Homo sapiens: one gene and its partners. The protein of the gene in region 1 purifies or fractionates together with the protein of each later gene. This does not show direct contact. Each region holds a gene or a part of one and is shown on either strand. Other genes may lie near its edges.

The links.
Region 2: the proteins of MTMR10 (region 1) and KIF20B purify together in Homo sapiens (affinity purification with mass spectrometry; one large-scale study listed by BioGRID and IntAct). This does not show direct contact.
Region 3: the proteins of MTMR10 (region 1) and LRCH3 purify together in Homo sapiens (affinity purification with mass spectrometry; one large-scale study listed by BioGRID and IntAct). This does not show direct contact.

Annotation. Positions count from the first base shown.
Region 1 is NC_000015.10:30,957,129-30,960,628, reverse strand, and holds part of MTMR10 (myotubularin-related protein 10), read left to right. Parts: intron 1-1,507; coding exon 1,508-1,595; intron 1,596-1,677; coding exon 1,678-1,766; intron 1,767-3,500.
Region 2 is NC_000010.11:89,721,888-89,725,620, forward strand, and holds part of KIF20B (kinesin-like protein KIF20B), read left to right. Parts: intron 1-2,076; coding exon 2,077-2,216; intron 2,217-3,132; coding exon 3,133-3,271; intron 3,272-3,733. UniProt on the Homo sapiens protein: Plus-end-directed motor enzyme that is required for completion of cytokinesis. Required for proper midbody organization and abscission in polarized cortical stem cells.
Region 3 is NC_000003.12:197,794,239-197,797,971, forward strand, and holds part of LRCH3 (DISP complex protein LRCH3), read left to right. Parts: intron 1-3,733. UniProt on the Homo sapiens protein: As part of the DISP complex, may regulate the association of septins with actin and thereby regulate the actin cytoskeleton.

The DNA of each region.
Region 1 (3,500 bases):
GTGTTTTACAGTTGGTTTGTTCATATCAGGATCTAAAGTCTTCACATTGAATTTGCTTAATATGTCTCTTAGGCCTTTTAATCTACAACAGTCTCCTCCCACCTCTTTTTTACCTACTATTTGTTGACAAACCAGGTCATTTGTTCCCTAGAATTTTCCACATTGTAGATATTGCTTGTTTTATCCCCAGGGTGTCCCGTAATGTGTTCCTCTGTCTCTAATATTTCCTTTAAAATGTTAGCAACAGAGGCTTAATCGGATTCAGGTTCAGTACTTTTGGCAAGAATGTTTCATTAGGTGGTTCTGTGTTCTCCTGTGGAGTCACATCCCATCTCAGGCTGGCTGGGCTGTGTCTCTCTCATTGTAATCCTGACGACCAGTGGGCTTAGAGGGTGTCAACCTGATCCACCCAGTAAAAGTTCCCCTCTTATATCATGGTTTGAGCTCCCAAAAATAGTTTTGCACTGGGAGGGAGGATCATTGCTCAGATCGTTATTTCACTAAGGATTGCTATTGTTCACCTTCTAATTCTATCATCTTTCTGCTTTTATCGAACTTTTCTCTCACCAGCTCTTTAGTGCCCTGTAACACAGTTCGTACAAGAAAAGCAATATAAATATCTACATTTTCTCCTTTACTTAACATTTTTCCAAATAGTGAGCTGGTTCCCTAGGGGATCTTCTAGAAGTGACTAGGAATTTGTTTTTTTAATTTGTTTAATGTCATTTAGTTATTATGAATTTTTTGGAATGCCTTATTTTAAGGTCATTGAAGTCCTCATTAGTTCACGCACATAAGCAGCTTTTTAGAAAAAGGAAGAAAAGCACTACTGTGTTATTACTGGTTAATCCAGTACCAGGAACTTCTAGTACAGTTCTAGAAAGGTGCTTTGCAGCATGTAGCTTGTATCTTTTGCTTCCCCTGGAATTTAAGCTTCAAGGCCAGCACACTCTGGTATATGTGCTGAGAAACATGTGATGGGGCTGCCCAGCCACGTCGGGGAAAGAAGGAAGATGTCTTGAGGTGCAGTGAGCTTGCCCACTAGTAATTATTGTCTGATCAGTGTCCTAGAGTCTGACTGTGCCTTTTAGGCATGGGGAAAGGTAGAAGAGGGACTTAAGAAGAGAGCTAAAGCTCCTGGTAGATTTGTGGGGTTTTCTTTTGTTTGCCTGGTGTCCTTAACCATAGCCTGTCAAGAGAACAAAGGTGGATATATTTTTCAGTGAACACATACATGTTTAATAGTCATTCTGGAAAATATTTCTAATACCTTCTTTGGAATTTTCTCATGCTATAAATTTAGATTTTTAAGAATTGGTCATATCGCACCAATTTTAGACTAAGAGGTGTAGGATCGTCACTGCCCCCCCATGGTGCCCACCATGTGGCTACTAAGTGGGGTGCACATTAAATGCGGACAACTTGCTTAATTATTTATAGGGTCTGCAGGAGCACACTATTCCTGCTTTTAGCACAGCACTCATATAATTTTTTTTTTCCCCTCCAGCCTTCCAGAATACATTGTAGTGCCAAGTTCTTTAGCAGACCAAGATCTAAAGATCTTTTCCCATTCTTTTGTTGGGAGAAGGATGCCAGTAAGTGATTTCTGTTGGATTTTATGAATGCTGACGTCCATTGTTTCTACACAGTGAAGTAAGGATTCTACCTCTCCCCTAGCTCTGGTGCTGGAGCCACTCTAACGGCAGTGCTCTTGTGCGAATGGCCCTCATCAAAGACGTGCTGCAGCAGAGGAAGATTGACCAGAGGTAATTGAGAAATGGTCATTGTCACTTTAGATAGTTTTACTTGTTGTGTAACTACAGTGAGTTCCCTACTAATTGAAAATAACAAAATGCATAGTCTTACTAATTAGTTAGCACCATGTTTTATATAAGAATTGCCATTTTGAAAAGAATGTGATAATATTAAAATTAACTGACATTGGAGTTACACTAAATATAATTTAATTATTTGGTTTGTAAGACACTTGTGGATCTTACATTGCTGACATCTTGCTATAGCATTTCCTATAACATACTTTCAAAGTGCAGTGATATCCAGTTGAGACACTTCAGGATAAATCAAACTTTTCTTGTAGTTTGATGTGTCTTATTTAGGTCTACACATTTGCAATAGCTAGAACAGTGGTTTTAATTAGCCACCACAGACGAGTCTGGCATCATCTGCTGTGGTCATTAGTAACCTCCACGTCATTAAAGTAGGAGGCCTTTCTCAGTTGTGCTCATAGCAGTGAGCAATACTATTGATCACTCTCTCCTTAAACCCGCCTGGGCCCTCAGCCTCTGCTCCTCTCCACTCTCCTGAAGCTCCTCTTCCTCACTGGCACTCCGTGCCTTCTGCAGACCCATCCTCTTCTCTCCAGACATTACACAGATTCTAAGGCCGCTTCCTCATGTTCTGTATTCTTTTCCTAAAGAAGTTTCCCCAAGAATGTGGCTTTAGTGACCAACACATTTATATCTTCAGTCTACCTTGACTTCTACATGGAGGTCTCAAAGACCCCTTAAACTCATTATGTCCAAAACCAAACTCAAGGATATGGCCTCCATGCCCTCCCCCAGCCTGCTCTCAGAAACCGGGGGGTCATCCTGGATGCCTTCCTCTTTCTTTCCCTTCCCCATCACCAATCCCTCCTCAGGTTTTCTCACTTCACTTTTCAGACACCTTGCAAACCCATGTGCTTCCACAAACCCAGCTCCACCTCTGCCTGTGTGTTATAAGTGCTATCATTTCCTCCTTCCATGTCTCCTCCACCCCTGGGCTCCAGCCCCCTGGACTTTCCCTGGTGTTTTCAACCTCCTGACATTGTCCAGCGCTCTTCCCTTCTGGACTGCCTTCTTTGCACTCATCTGGGAACACTCTCCACGCTTACCCACTTGGCACTCCTTGTTTCTTTTTTTTTGAGACAGAGTCTCACTCTGTCACCCATGCTGGAGTGCAGTGGTACGATCTCGGCTCCCGGGTTCAAGTGATTATCATGCCTCAGCCTCCTGAGTAGCTGGGATTACAGGCACCCACCACCACATCCAGCTGATTTTTGTATTTTTAATAGAGACAAGATTTCACCATGTCGGCCAGGCTGGTCTCGAACTCCTGACCTCAGGTGATCCACCCGCCTCGGCCTACCGAAGTGCTGGGATTACAGGCGTGAGCCACTGCACCCGGCTCACTCATTCTTTATATCTCAATTCAAACATCATTTCCTCAAGATAAGCCTTCTCTCCCCTCTAAAGTTTGATCAGACCTCAAAAGTCTATGTTCTTAGAGCTCCTGAGTTTTTAACATTTATTTCAGTTTTTAATTATATATGTGTGTGTTACAGTTTGATTACCGCCTGTCGTTTTTACTCCATGAGATGAGGGACTATGTCTGTTTTGCACACCGTTATATATTTAGCACCCAGGAAGCATATATGATATTTATTCAATACTTGTTGAATAAATGAGGAGTAAATGAACAGATCTTATAAAACAGGCTTA
Region 2 (3,733 bases), on another chromosome or scaffold:
TCAATATGATTAGGTGTTGGCATGCTTTATTTTTTTCTTCTAGAGACAAAGTCTTGCTCTGTTACCTAGGCTGGAGTGCAATAGTGTAGTTATGGCTCACTGCAGCTTCGAAATCCTGGGCTCAAGTGATCCTCTTGCCTCAGTCTCCTGAGTAGCTGGGACCACAGATGCATGCCACCACCCCTAACTAATTTTTAAAAATGTTTTGTAGACATGAGGCCTTGCTCTATTGCCCAGGCTGATCTTGAACCCTTGGGCTCAGGCAATCCTCCTGCCTTGCAAAGCGCTGGGATTACAGATGTGAGTCAATGTGCCCAGCCCTTTCTTGACATTTTAATTAAAGGATTGGGACTTTTAAAAACCATTATAAAATACCTTGGTATTAGCATACATATACTTAAATTCGTTTAGCTGTAATAGCCAGCCTAAATTTTTTCAGCAAAAACTTTATCAGATGCTAACAATGATAAAACCTAATTATTGAAAACTATTAAACTTCCCGCCAGGCGCGGTGGCTCATGCCTGTAATCCCAGCACTTTGGGAGGCCAAGGTGGGTGGATCATGAGGTTGAGAGATTAAGACCATCCTGGCTAACACGGTGAAACCCTGTCTCTACTAAAAATACAAAAAATTAGCCAGGCGTGGTTTCTGGCGCCTGTAGTCCCAGCTACTCGGGAGGTTGAGGCAGGAGAATGGCGTGAACCTGGGGGGCGGAGGTTGCAGTGAGCCGAGATCGAGCCACTGCACTCCAGCCTGGGCGACAGAGTGAGACTCCGTCTCAAAAAAAATAAATAAATAAAATAAACAAACTTCCCAAGGTTTTTCCACATTCATTCTGATGTCTCCTTCAATAGTTATTATTTATTGTTTTACTCAGAAAGTATGTAGTTTAAAATTATTAAAATAGTATTATGTATTTATAGTAGAGTGAAAAAGAAAATCTAAATATAAAGATCTCTCAAATCTACCATGAATGTTAATGGATTTTTATTATATATTACTGTTTTGTAACCTGGTATTCTTTATATAAAAATAAATTGTGAAAAGTATGAATTATTAATATAGGTTATCATTGATTACGGTAGTTTATGGTAGTACCATAATTAAACCAATCCTTTAACATTGGTTGAGTTGGGTTCACTTTTTCATTATTTAAACACAACTACCATCACAAAACAACAACACTGTGATCAGCATTCATACAACCAGAACATGGGGTTATATTATAATTATTTTCAGTATAAATTCTTGGAGGCAGAGTTTCAAAGTCTGGATAGCTGTAGAACTATTTTCAAATATAAAGTTGAGACATTGGAAGATCTGTAGCTTAGAGTTTATTGTTTAATTTGTTGTTGAGTAACTTTAAATAGAAACATTAAAAAGAATATGTAGCTGTTTCCTTAATGCTACAATTTATGTTATGAATGTATAATGGTCATGTTAAGTGTTTTATTTATTGCTTTATTTATATATTGCACATTTTTCATGATTATGTATGTGTTTCAAAGGCTATAGAATTGCTGTTGACATCTGGATAGTTATAAAAGCCTAATATAAGTTTATGTAACATCTTTATTTGACAGATTAGTAAGTGGGTGTTCTTAGCAACTTCTCTGGTGTATGCAATCCTTGGGCTTTAGACTTTTACAGGCCACTTTTAAACTCAACCTTTAGCATTTACCAGAGATCTGATCCTTATGCTTCCCACCTGTGAAATATGGATGATACCAAGCTCACAGAAAGTTGTGGATTAAATGAAGCAAATATGGAACTCCCCAGAGTAGTTCTTGATAGATAATAAATGCACTAATTAACTTTACTTATTTTCTTAGTATAGCTAAACAGTGAGACGAGTTACCAAAGGTCTATTTCTAAAATGTGGAAAGGCCAACCTGATTTTTCAGTTAACAAATCTTTGCAAACATATAATTTTCAGTGAGAACATTATCACTATTAAAAAGGACACAGAATTACAATTGACTAAATGTAAAGTTTTATTTTTTGAACAGTTGGACGGTATTTCTCTTGGGATATATTTATTCTTTTATAAGAATTTTATCATTTACATGTAATAGAAACTGTTGGACTTAATAGAAGACTTGAAAAAAAAACTGATAAATGAAAAAAAGGAAAAATTAACCTTGGAATTTAAAATTCGAGAAGAAGTTACACAGGAGTTTACTCAGTATTGGGCTCAACGGGAAGCTGACTTTAAGTAAGTTATTTATTTCATGTCCAGGTAAAAATTGAGAATTTTATTTAGTTTTTTAGTTTTTTTTTTTACTTAGTTTACTTTTTATATTAGGTGGCTTCTGAATTCTGATCTCTTTATACAAGCTTGAAAATAGCTGTTACTGGTCTGGTGCGGTGGCTCACGCCTGTAATCCCAGCATTTTGGGAGGCCTAGGCAGGCGGATCACTGAAGGTCAGGAGGTCGAGATCAGCCTGGCCAACATGGTGAAACCTCGTCTGTACTAAAAATAGAAAAATTAGCTGGGCGTACTGGCATGTTCCTGAAGTCCCAGCTGCTTTCAGGAGGCTGAGGCACGAGAATCTCTTGAACCTGGGAGGTGTAGGTTGCAGTGAGCTGAGATTGTGTCACTGCACTCCAGCCTGGGCGACAGAGTGAGACTCTTGTCTCAGAGAAGAAAAAAAAGAATATAGCTGTAACTAATCCCATGCATGGTTATTTAAATTTTCTCTCTTTTTTAAATTTAAATTTTAATTTTTTGAGATGGAGTCTTGTGCTGTCACCCAGGCTGGTATTGAGTGGTGCGATCTTGGCTCACGGCAACCTGCACCTCCTGGGTTCAAGCAATTCTTCTGCCTTAGCCTCTCCTGCCTTAGCCTCCTGAGTAGCTGGGATTACAGGCACACACCACCACGCCCAGCTAATTTTTGTGTTTTTAGTAGAGACGGTGTTGCTGTGTTGGCCAGGCTGGTTTCAAACTCCTGGCCTGAAGTGATCCACCCGCCTCCGCCTCCCAAATTGCTGGGATTACAGGCGTGAACCACTGTACCTGGACTAAATTTTCTTTTAATCTAGAATATACTTAAACTTAGATGTTTAAAACAAAAACACAAAGTAGTTCGTTTTCTGTTTCTTAATGGGATTAATTTGTATTTTGAAGGGAGACTCTGCTTCAAGAACGAGAGATATTAGAAGAAAATGCTGAACGTCGTTTGGCTATCTTCAAGGATTTGGTTGGTAAATGTGACACTCGAGAAGAAGCAGCGAAAGACATTTGTGCCACAAAAGTTGAAACTGAAGTATGTTAATTGAAGTATTTAAAAATATCCAGTGAGGTTTTGGTACCAGGGTTTAGTGTACCACATCAATGATGAGAAACACCAAGATAGTTTAGAATTAAAACAATGCTTTGTGTGTAGCTTTATTATAATTAGGCATGTTTTTTTAGAAGTGTAAGGCACCAAGAATTTAAATATAATGATTGGTTTTGAAAAATTTATACCTCTGTTATATATATATATATCTTATTTTGGTATTGCTTGAATCATTGTGTTGTAGGCAGATAGATTCTTTTTTGAGATTTGTCTTACTTAACATTTTTAAATAAAAAGAATTTTAAAGGTGTAAGAGACCTAAGACGTCATTTACTTGCTGTTCTGATTAAAACAAAAATGTTTATGTATAAAAAGGGTTGCCCTTGCCGGGCAACTACCGTTTCTTACTCTTTTAAAATTTTATTTGTTTATTTATTTATTATAGTT
Region 3 (3,733 bases), on another chromosome or scaffold:
TTTCCACTGTACCATGCAACCTCTTCATATAGAAATAGGTGTTGCTGTTCCTGTTTTTACAGATGGTGGAAACCAGCATTTAGAGATGTTCACTAATTTGCTCAAAGATCTGTGGCTAAAGGACAGAGGAGACGGTATTAGCCAGGAGTTTAGTCTAGTTTGAGGTGACTCCAAAAGCCATAGTCTGTTTTTATGGCAGGTACTTTGATTAATTTGGAACCAACTTATGGTAGTTATTAGGTATGCTTAGACCTTATAGAAAATTTAAAGCCAAGTAAAATTAGTTGAATGCTAATATATAAAAGTTGCCTTGCATACTGTTTTTTCATAATGTGTAGCATGTACATGGTAGAGCTGTTGTCCTTCAAATTCGTATCCTAGGGAACAGCATATATTGCCCATATTTATAATTAGACATGATTTTGAACTTATTGGGAACGTTTTCTTGGGACTTTCTGTGCTGTTTATTTTGAAAGGTTAATCTGGCTGGGCCTGGTGGCTCTCGCCTATAATCCCAGCACTTTGGGAGGCCAGGGCGGGCAGATCACCTGAGATCGGAAGTTCCAGACCAGCTTGGCTAACATGGTGAAACCCGGTCTCAACTAAAAATACAAAAATTAGCCAGGTGTAATGGCGGGTGCCTGTAATCCCAACTACTTGAGAGGGTGAGGCACGAGACTCGCTTGAACCCAGGAGGCGGAGGTTGCAGTGAGCTGAGATTGTGCCACTGCACTCCAGCCTGGGTGACAGAGTAAGTGCTGTCTTAAAAAAAAAAGAAAAAAAAATATTAATCTTTTGGAAAAGGGGAATATTTATTTGGGAATGGGTGACTTGATCCAGTGGACAAGGAAAGTCTTAGAAGACATCACAGAAGACTTCTTGAAGCAGAAAGGATATAACTTGGATTTGGGCAAGCAGAAACAAGAAGGAAAGCTATTTTAGGCAGTGGTGGACAGCACGCAAAAAATGTTAAGAGTATAAGGGACATCAGTTAATTTTGCCAGTCCATTATTCAGTCCCTTCTGGTAATAGTACTCCAATTTTCCTAGGGAACCACCCCTCTCAGTTATATGAACCCCACCCTGGCATAGGGTATGCCAGTGACTCAGGCCTAGCTAATGGTCAGTCAGTATATAGTCCATTGCTCTGGCCATAGTGATTGTTCAGAGGTGGGCCCATTTTGCAATCAGCACACATGAGTAACTGAATTTTTTGTTGAACTATTGAGAAAGAGGCATGCTTTGAGCCCTGGGGTTGCTGAGACAATAGGATGTTAGCCTGGAAGTTACCAATAAGTGGGAAGCAGAGCCAAAAGATGGAAGTTCTGATGGCAGTGTTTGTACCTTTGGGTCAGCCGCCATGCCTAAAGTCAGTGCTATCTCTGTACTTTCAAATTATGTGAGCTAATAAATTCTTCTTTCTGCTTAAGGTGAGTAAAAAAGTTGTTGTTTTTTTTTTTTTTTTTTTTTTTTGAGATGGAGTCTCGCTCTGTCACCCAGGCTGGAGTGCAGTGGCATGATCTCGGCTCACTGCAACTTCTTTCTCCTGGGTTCAAGTGATTTTCCTGCCTCAGCCTCCTGAGTAGCTGGGACTACAGGCGCCCACCACCACGCCTGGCTAATTTTTATATATTTAGTAGAGATGGGGTTTCACCATATTGGCCAGGCTGGTCTCAATCTCCTGACCTTGTGATCCGCCCGCCTTGGCTTCTCAAAGTGCTGGGATTACAGGTGTGACCCACCGCACCCGGCCAGAATTTTTTGATGATAAAAAGGTCCTGACTAATACAGTGAAACTACCCGTGATGATATTGTGGTGAGACAAATTTGGTCAAAATAAATTATTGGATTAGAGAATATAAGAGCTGCCTTTCGTATATGAGGAAGCTAGATAGCCAATAGCTTTAGAGGTCAGCATTCATTCAACAGACATTTATTGACTAAAGGACTTCGGCAGTTATTGGTGTATGAAGAGGACCAAGACACTCCCTGCCCTGACAGAACTCAAGGGATCTAATGGGGAGATAGACGGGTGGAAGGATTGTTTGAATTGTGCAATAATAGCACAACTACTATGTTTTAGGCATTATGCTGGGTAATGTAGAGGAAACAAAAATGAGGCCTTACGAATATTTTTAAATCTAGTAATCTGGTTGGGTAGCTGCATAACAGAAAGCTGTGAGGGAATGAAATCCTGGTACACTGAGATCATACTGGACAATGAAAATGTACAAATGCTGATTGAATTTATTTAAAAAAGGATAGGAGTCCAAGATCACTGTTAAACCTGTAAGACTAGAAAGATGGTAATGCTATTGCTTATAATAGTAGCTAACATTTATTGAGGTCTTAACATATTCCAGGTATTGTGCTAAGCTGTGTGTGTCTATATATAACATGAACAAAAACAACCATAGTAAGTTGTAAATACTATTTTTGACCCCATTTTACGTGTGAGAAAATTGAGGCTCAGGAGATTAAATAATTTGATCAAGGTCTCCCAGCTAATAAGTGACAAAACTAGGATTCAATTTCTGATACATTTGACCCTAAAATTTGTGTTATTGATCAATAATTATACCGACAAGTTGGTTTCCTGTAATTTCTTTGGTTTGCCCAATATCTTTGAAGGGTTGGTAGCACATCTAGTGAATCATGTGGGACAAATAGAAACAAATAGAAACTAGAGCTTTAGAATGTAGAGTGACACTTTAGGAGGCTGAGGTGGGTGGATCACGAGATCAGGAGTTCAAGACCAGCCTGGCCAACATGGTGAAACCCTGTCTCTACTAAAAATACAAAAAAATTTGCTGGGCATGGTAGCACACGCCTGTAATCGCAGCACTTTGGGGGGCCGAGGCGGGCAGATCACCCGATGTCAGGAGTTCAAGACCAGCCTGGCCAACATGGTGAAACCCCATCTCTATTAAAAATATAAAAAATTAGCTGGGCGTGGTGGTGCATGGCTGTAATCGCAGCTACTTGGGAGGCTGAGGCAGGAGAATTTCTTGAACCCTGGAAGTGGAGGTTGCAGTGAGCTGAGATCACGCCATTGCACTCCAGACTGGGCAACGAGCAAAACTCCATCTCAAAAAAAAAAAAAAAAAAAAGATGTAGAGTGAAGTTAATTAAGGCTATGGAATAAATTCAAGAGAGTCATAGTGAGAGTTTATAAGATTCTTGGAGGAAGGACGTAGAGAATGGAAAAGGTAGGCACTGTCAACTCAGGGAGATACCAGCATTTTAAAAGGTGGAAAGAGGAATCAGTCTGGGAAAAAACAGAAACAGAAAAAAGATTCAGTAACTAGGCCTGTACTAGAATTCATAGAATCCTAAAACTAGGCCGGGCGCAGTGGCTCACGCCTGTAATCCCAGCACTTTGGGAGGCCGAGGCAGGTGGATCACCTGAGGTGAGGAGTTTGAGACCAGTCTGCCCAACACGGTGAAACCCCGTCTCTACTAAAAATACAAAAAATAGCTGGGTGCCATTGGCAGGCGCCTATAATCCCAGCTACTCAGGAGACAGGCAGGGGAATCGCTTGTGCCGGGGAGGTGGAGGTTGCAGTGAGCTGAGATGGCGCCTCTGCACCCCAGCACTGGCAACAGAGCGAGACTCCATCTCAAAAAAAAAAAAAACAAAAAAAACAAAAAAAAAAACAAAACCAGAAAAATCCTAAAACCAGAAGGAACCATAGTGACCTTCTAAGTTATTTCACAAATGAGAAGCAATCTGA